2 separate regions of the Homo sapiens genome follow, and region 2 is linked to region 1. The links come from fine-mapping of genetic effects on gene expression. A gene starts in region 1. The other region holds a variant in brackets. All regions are shown on one strand. Distances are from middle to middle.

Region 1 (2,969 bases):
CCAACATGGTGAATCCCCGTCTCTACTAAAAATACAAAAATTAGCCAGGCGTGGTGGCATGTGCCTGTAGTCCCAGCTACTCAGGAGGCTGAGGCAGGAGAATCGCTTGAACCCGGGAGGTGGAGGTTGCAGTGAGCCGAGATTGCACCATTGCACTCCAGCCTGAGTGATAAGAGTGAAACTCCGTCTCAAATTAAAAAAAAAAAACAAAAAAAAAACCAGATTGATAATTACATACAACTAGTGGCTTGTGAAAGCTACAAGATAGAAATGAAGTATCTCCTGACAATGGGCTCTGTCTGGCGTGCCCTTCCTATGTAAGTTCTAACTATTGTCCAGGCCTCATTCAGATGTCACATGTTTCAAGAAGGCTCCTCACCCATTCAGTCCCTTCCCAGGAGCAACCTGGGGCTAGGGGTCTAGTGTGGCAGCTCCTGTCTGCCAGGTATGAGTTGGTCCTGTCCTCTGTTCTACGACCTGGAACTCCCTGGGTCTCCTGCTTTTGGAGAGGGTACACAAATAGTGGCAAGGGCTGTGTGCACTGGAGACAGGCTTGACCTATTTATTACTTATGCGACCTTGTGGTGCCAAACAAGGAGGTGGTAACTACCTCACAGGACTTAAATGAGGAGATGTAAAGCACGCATTGTCAAGTGGGACTAAAATTGGCTGGGGGTAGGCTGGGCGCGGTGGCTCACGCCTGTCATCCCAGCACTTTGGGAGGCCGAGGTGAGCGCATCACCTGAGGTCAGGAGTTCGAGACCAGCCTGGCCAACATGGTGAATCCCCATCTCTACTAAAAATACAAAAATTAGCTGGGCATGGTGGCTCAGGCCTGTAGTCCCAGCTACTCGGAAGGCTGAGGTAGGAGAATCGCTTGAACCCCGGAGGCGGAGGTTGCAGTGAGCCGAGATCGCGCCACTGCACTCCAGCCTGGGTGACAGAGGCTGCAGACTCCATCTCAAAAAAAAAAAAAAAATTGGCTTGGGGTGGTAGTGAAGAAATCTAGCTATTACAATGGTTTGTGGCCACAGAAACAAATACACAGCGTACTAGTGGTATTAAATTTTATGGGAAGGGGGTAGGTAGGAATAACGAGGTTGAGAAACAAGGATATAAAGTGGTTACCTCTGTTGCTTAGGGCGCCTAGCGAGCTCTCACAAAACACAGTAATCCTCAATGTTACTGGAAGAGGCAGAGCTCAGGAGTCCTCCCTTCGCCCAGTGTGAAAACCCGGAGGGGAGGATGGGGTCTCGTGCTGCTCAGTCCCCCGGAGCCCCGCACTCCGCACGTCAACCGGCGCTCTCGCAAAGGTTCTCTCAGCGTCTCCAAAGCAATCTGCAAATTCCCCAACCGAGACCCAGGCGGCAACTGAGCAGAAGGTAAGGGGCTGGGAACGGCACCCACCCCGGCAGCCCGCTGCCCCTGCCTCGGCTGACCACCGCTCGGGCCCTTCCACCCGGGGGTTGTCCCGTGTCGCGAGGCCAGCACTGGTGGCGGGGAAAGGAGCCCGCCGCGGCTGAGGGCGCTGGACCCCCGGCAGGCTGCCCCGCTGACCTGCTGTGCCTCAAGGGGTCCGCCTGGGAAACAGGGGAGGCCGCGTCCGCTCTCACCTGAGCGCCCCCAGGCTCGAGGAACCGCCCTCACGGGACGCATGAGCCTCGCCAGGTGCCGGTCAGGAATGCACCGCGTTCCCCTGCCCGGCTAGACTTTGGGAGAGGCGGGTCCGCTGTCACCTGACCTCCGCCACCTGACTCGTGGGGCCGGATCTCGGCGAGATGAGCTCTGGGAGTTGTAGTTTCCGCGCGTCTTAGACGGACAGAGCGCAGCTGGGTCGGGCCGGGGCGCAGAGATCGGGGCTCCGGCGTGAGGGAAGATGAGGTCCGCTGCCAGGGACACAGAGACTCTTGGAGCCGCCAGCGCCTCCCGGCTCCTTTCGTGAGCGAAGCTCAGACCGCCCTCCATTGGGCGGAAATCAGAGCCCGTGGGGCGGGGCCCCCTTTAGGTCCCGCCTTCCGCCGCCTCTCCGCCTATAGCCGGGGCCCGCCGAGAGGTTGCGTGGAAGCTCGCCTTCCCCGGCCAGTGGGAAGACGAGAAGCCTCCATGTTGGGTGTGGCTGAAAGATTGGCAGGCGACTCCCCGCCCCTGCCCCGCCCCCCTGGGCGAAGAGCGCGGACTTGTGGGGCCGCTGGCTGCAGACTGGAGCTGCGCGGGTCAGGGAGATAATGGCTGCGCGGCCGATCACCCTCGGCATTGACCTGGGCACCACATCTGTGAAGGCAGCTCTGCTGAGGGCCGCGCCCGACGACCCATCCGGGTTCGCAGTGCTGGCGAGCTGTGCCCGTGCTGCGCGGGCAGAGGCGGCGGTCGAGAGCGCGGTGGCCGGGCCCCAGGTGAGTTGGACCCCCGGGGCCGCGCCGCCTCCAGGAGCCTCCTGACCACCCTTTTCCACCCCAGGAGGCCTCCCTGACAGCCCTTCCCGCAATGAAGTCTCTATTCCAGCTTGTCCCCAGCTTCTCCAGGGGCCCGTCTGCCTGCAGCAGCTGTGCTCATGATCCCTTAGGTCTGGTCCCAGAATCCTTCCCACCTGCTGGGACCGATTCCCCCCCGCCCCCTCCCCGACTCTCTGGCTTCTTCTGGGGGCCTTGCGCTTGGCGCTGGATCCCTGTGCTCTCTGTCCCCTGACCTTGGAGGAACTGATCTCTTGTGTGTATGGAATGACCACAGGCCTCCCTTTCACTCTTGCTGCTCTCCGCTCCTCACACCTGCCCTGTGACCTCAAGTTCAGGATTCAGTTTGTTGCCCAGGGCAGAGTCTGGGTTTTCCTCCGGAAATCAGATGTCAAATCAGGCCTAACTGGCTCCTGGCTCATTCCACAGAAGCAGAATGCGGACCAAGAAACCTTTGGTCAGCCGGGCGCGGTGGCTCACGCCTGTAATCCCAGCGCTTTGGGAGGCCGAGGCGGGCGG
Region 2 (2,813 bases), 22 kb before region 1:
TGCTCCAGCCCTCAGTGCTTTTGTAGTAAAAGTTCATGTAGGCCTGGGCCAGACAGACGGACAGACAGACGGAGGGCGGTGAGGGCTGGGCGGCTGCCTCATGCGCCTCGTGACTGCCCCTCCAAACAAAAGCGGTTCTCATTCCTCCCACTGGGGCCTTGGCTCCAAGGACACGGTGACCTTTGGGCTATGACAGGCCTCAGCCAAGGAACAGTTTGGGTGGTCCTGGGGGTAGGCGTCTCATCTGCATGTACAGCAAGCAAAGGCCCCGCACCCCCCACACCTCACAGCTCCAGCAGAGGCGGGGCCGATGCGGCCTTCCCCGTCTCCTCCACATCCCTGGGGCCAAGGCCCTGTGCTAGTTTCCCTGTAGCTATGATTCTTCTTCTCACCTCCAGGCAAGGCTGTCCCCAAACTCAGCCTGGACTTCATGTGCTTAGGGACTGGTGGGAGTGGGACTTCTGGTTTGGAATCCTGGCTCCATCACCGGAGCCTGCTGTCTTGGGCAAGTGACAGTTCTCCTAGCCTTGGTTTCCCCGTCTGTAGAGCGGGGTTAACGCCCCCCACAGGCCTGGCCGGGGCTTCCTGGGTCTGGTTGGGGGGGCGGGTCTGCGGGGATGCGCCCCAGTCTGACTGCCTGTGCCCCACGTCCTCCCATGCTGCAGAGCCCTGTGGGTCCTCTGACTGCTGTGACCTTTCCTTCCCCCCGTGAGGCAGGTCCTGGCCTCTCTGGTGGCCTCCCAGTGAGCCTCTAGTCAGTCCCTGTCTGTGTCCCGGCTCACCCTCTTCCGTACTTGCTGCTGCCCCTCCAGCAGTTCCAAACGTCTCCAACCTGGGCTCCTCCATCCCCGGTTTCTTGGCCCCAATCCCTCCCACCCTCAGGGACTGGGGCCCACTTCCCCAAACCTTCCCCTCCTCGGAAGCCCCCCCCAGCTCCCGGGACCTGACCCCAGCTTCCCAGCTTCAACATGCTCAACACTGTTCAACCAGCCACATCCCCTCACTGCCGCCCCGTGTCCCGCCCCAGCCTCTGTGCAGGCTGGCCTGGCCCGGAACGCCCGGGCTCCTTGGCCACAGAACTTAGTCCTGCTCAGCCTAAGAGTCCAGTCCTGCCTCCCAGTCAGAACGCTGGCCCTCCTGAGCTCACAGAACACGAGGCTCCCAGGGCTGGGGGCACTGGAACAAGGCTTCTCCCTTTGGGAATGGGGTGAGTTAAATGAGGCCCTAGGTCCCCGGGTGCAGCAACTTCAGCCCTGACCCTGTCCCAGGCTGTGGGGCAAGATGTGCTGGACCCTGAGTCCCCGGATCTGAAGAGGACCGGCTATGCTCATAGGACGGGCTGAGCTCTGCGC[G/A]GGAAGGGGCTCCCTCCTCCCACCTCACCTCTCCAGAGTGTCCTGCTGTGGAAATGGAGGCAGTGGTGAGGGCAGAGCCAAAGGCATCAGGAAAGGCTGGGGTGTGGAGAAGGGGAACCACCCGCACACCTGATGCTTAGGGGAGCGTGGGGTCCAAGGGGCCTCCGCTAGCGATCTCCTGTGATTCCAGCCCCGGGGGAAGAGCGGCAGGCTGGCCTCCCCACCGCCCCGCTCCCGCTGGGCTCCCGGGCTCCCTGTGGCTTTCCGTCCTGTTTCCTCACGCCGGCAGGAGCTGCCCCACCGGAGCAGGGCCTGGGCCATGTAGCTCTCACCTCTCCTGCCACCGGCCATGTGAACAGGGCCCTGGAGGTACCTGTGGAAAATACTTGACCAGCGTGACTGCGAGCTTGATGTAGGAGAAGCAGAAGAGAAACTGCAGCCACGTGGTCACTCCCACTGCAGCCACGATCATGGTGACAAATGCGAAGAGCCACGCGAGCACCAGGAAGCCGATGGCAGGCCAGGACACGCGCTGGCCACCGCGCTGGGGGCGAGAGGAGGGCAGAGATGTGGACCCACACAGAGGCCACGCCGGGGCTGAGCAAGGACGGCCCCGGATAGGGCGGGCTTAGAGAGGGGCACGGAGGCTGGACCCTGGCCTTGAAGGAGCCCCTGCAAGGTGGGGGCTGCACTGGGGTTGTGGCAGGGGAACATGTGGACCACAGAAAGCATCACACCTGGGCTGGTGCTGGACATCCCCAGCACCAACCACACCTTCTCATCGCCAGGGCCTCCTGTTCAGGCTGCTTGGACTCTCAAGCTCTGTCTGCTTTGTTCCTACTTGGCAGAACTGGGCGCCTCTCAGCACTCACTTGGAGACGTGGGGTCGGAACTCTGGTGGCCTGGTGCCTCTCCCAGCCAGGTACTGACTCGTCCCACGACCCGGCAGCAGCCTGAGGATCTCAGGAATCTGTCCCCTCGCCTTGCCTTTCCCTGAACACGGGCCCAATGTGGGCCACCTTCACTCTCGCTTCACACCAAAAGCTAAGAAAGCCTAGAAGGTTCATACGGGTGGGGCCAGACAGCCCCCAGCTGGCCTTACAGTGTGAAGGGAACTCCCTGAGAGAAGGGAAAGCAAAGCTGTCATATCAGGGGTCCCCGGACCCAGCCTTGGTGGGGCCCTGCCCTGCCGACACCCATGGCTTCCAGCAACAAAGCTGAATACAGGTGTCTCCGCCTGCACGCGGGCCCCCTCCTGGCACCCTGAAGCCCAGCTGCACCCGCCTGCTCAGGGTCCCTCTCAAATGCCCCTTGGCCTCTGTGACCTGACCCCTCCAGGAGCCCACCCTGGCCCCTCCCCTCCTCCATAGGAACTTCACTCATCCTTGGAGCCCAACCAAGCGTCTTCCTCTGCCCTCCTCCCTTCTGTGCCCTCCTCCCTCCTCCCTTCTGTGCCCTCCT

Evidence for each region.
Region 2: its variant is fine-mapped to the expression of CTNS in lung (TOPMed, PIP above 0.99).

Annotation. Positions count from the first base shown.
Region 1 is chr17:3,635,476-3,638,444 of GRCh38, reverse strand. CTNS (cystinosin, lysosomal cystine transporter) reads right to left here and starts at 1,685. Exons shown (of 12, transcript NM_004937.3): 1 at 1,614-1,685; 2 at 1,129-1,338. SHPK (sedoheptulokinase) reads left to right here and starts at 2,195. Exons shown (of 7, transcript NM_013276.4): 1 at 2,195-2,393. The coding sequence starts at 2,226. RefSeq lists silencers at 1,320-1,409, 2,420-2,479 and an enhancer at 1,690-1,939.
Region 2 is chr17:3,657,088-3,659,900 of GRCh38, reverse strand. It overlaps CTNS (cystinosin, lysosomal cystine transporter), which reads right to left. Exons shown (of 12, transcript NM_004937.3): 10 at 1,726-1,896; 11 at 1-43. Among named protein-coding and RNA genes, the nearest start is that of TAX1BP3, 10 kb to the left of the region's middle. The variant G/A (reference allele first, on the strand shown) is at 1,353.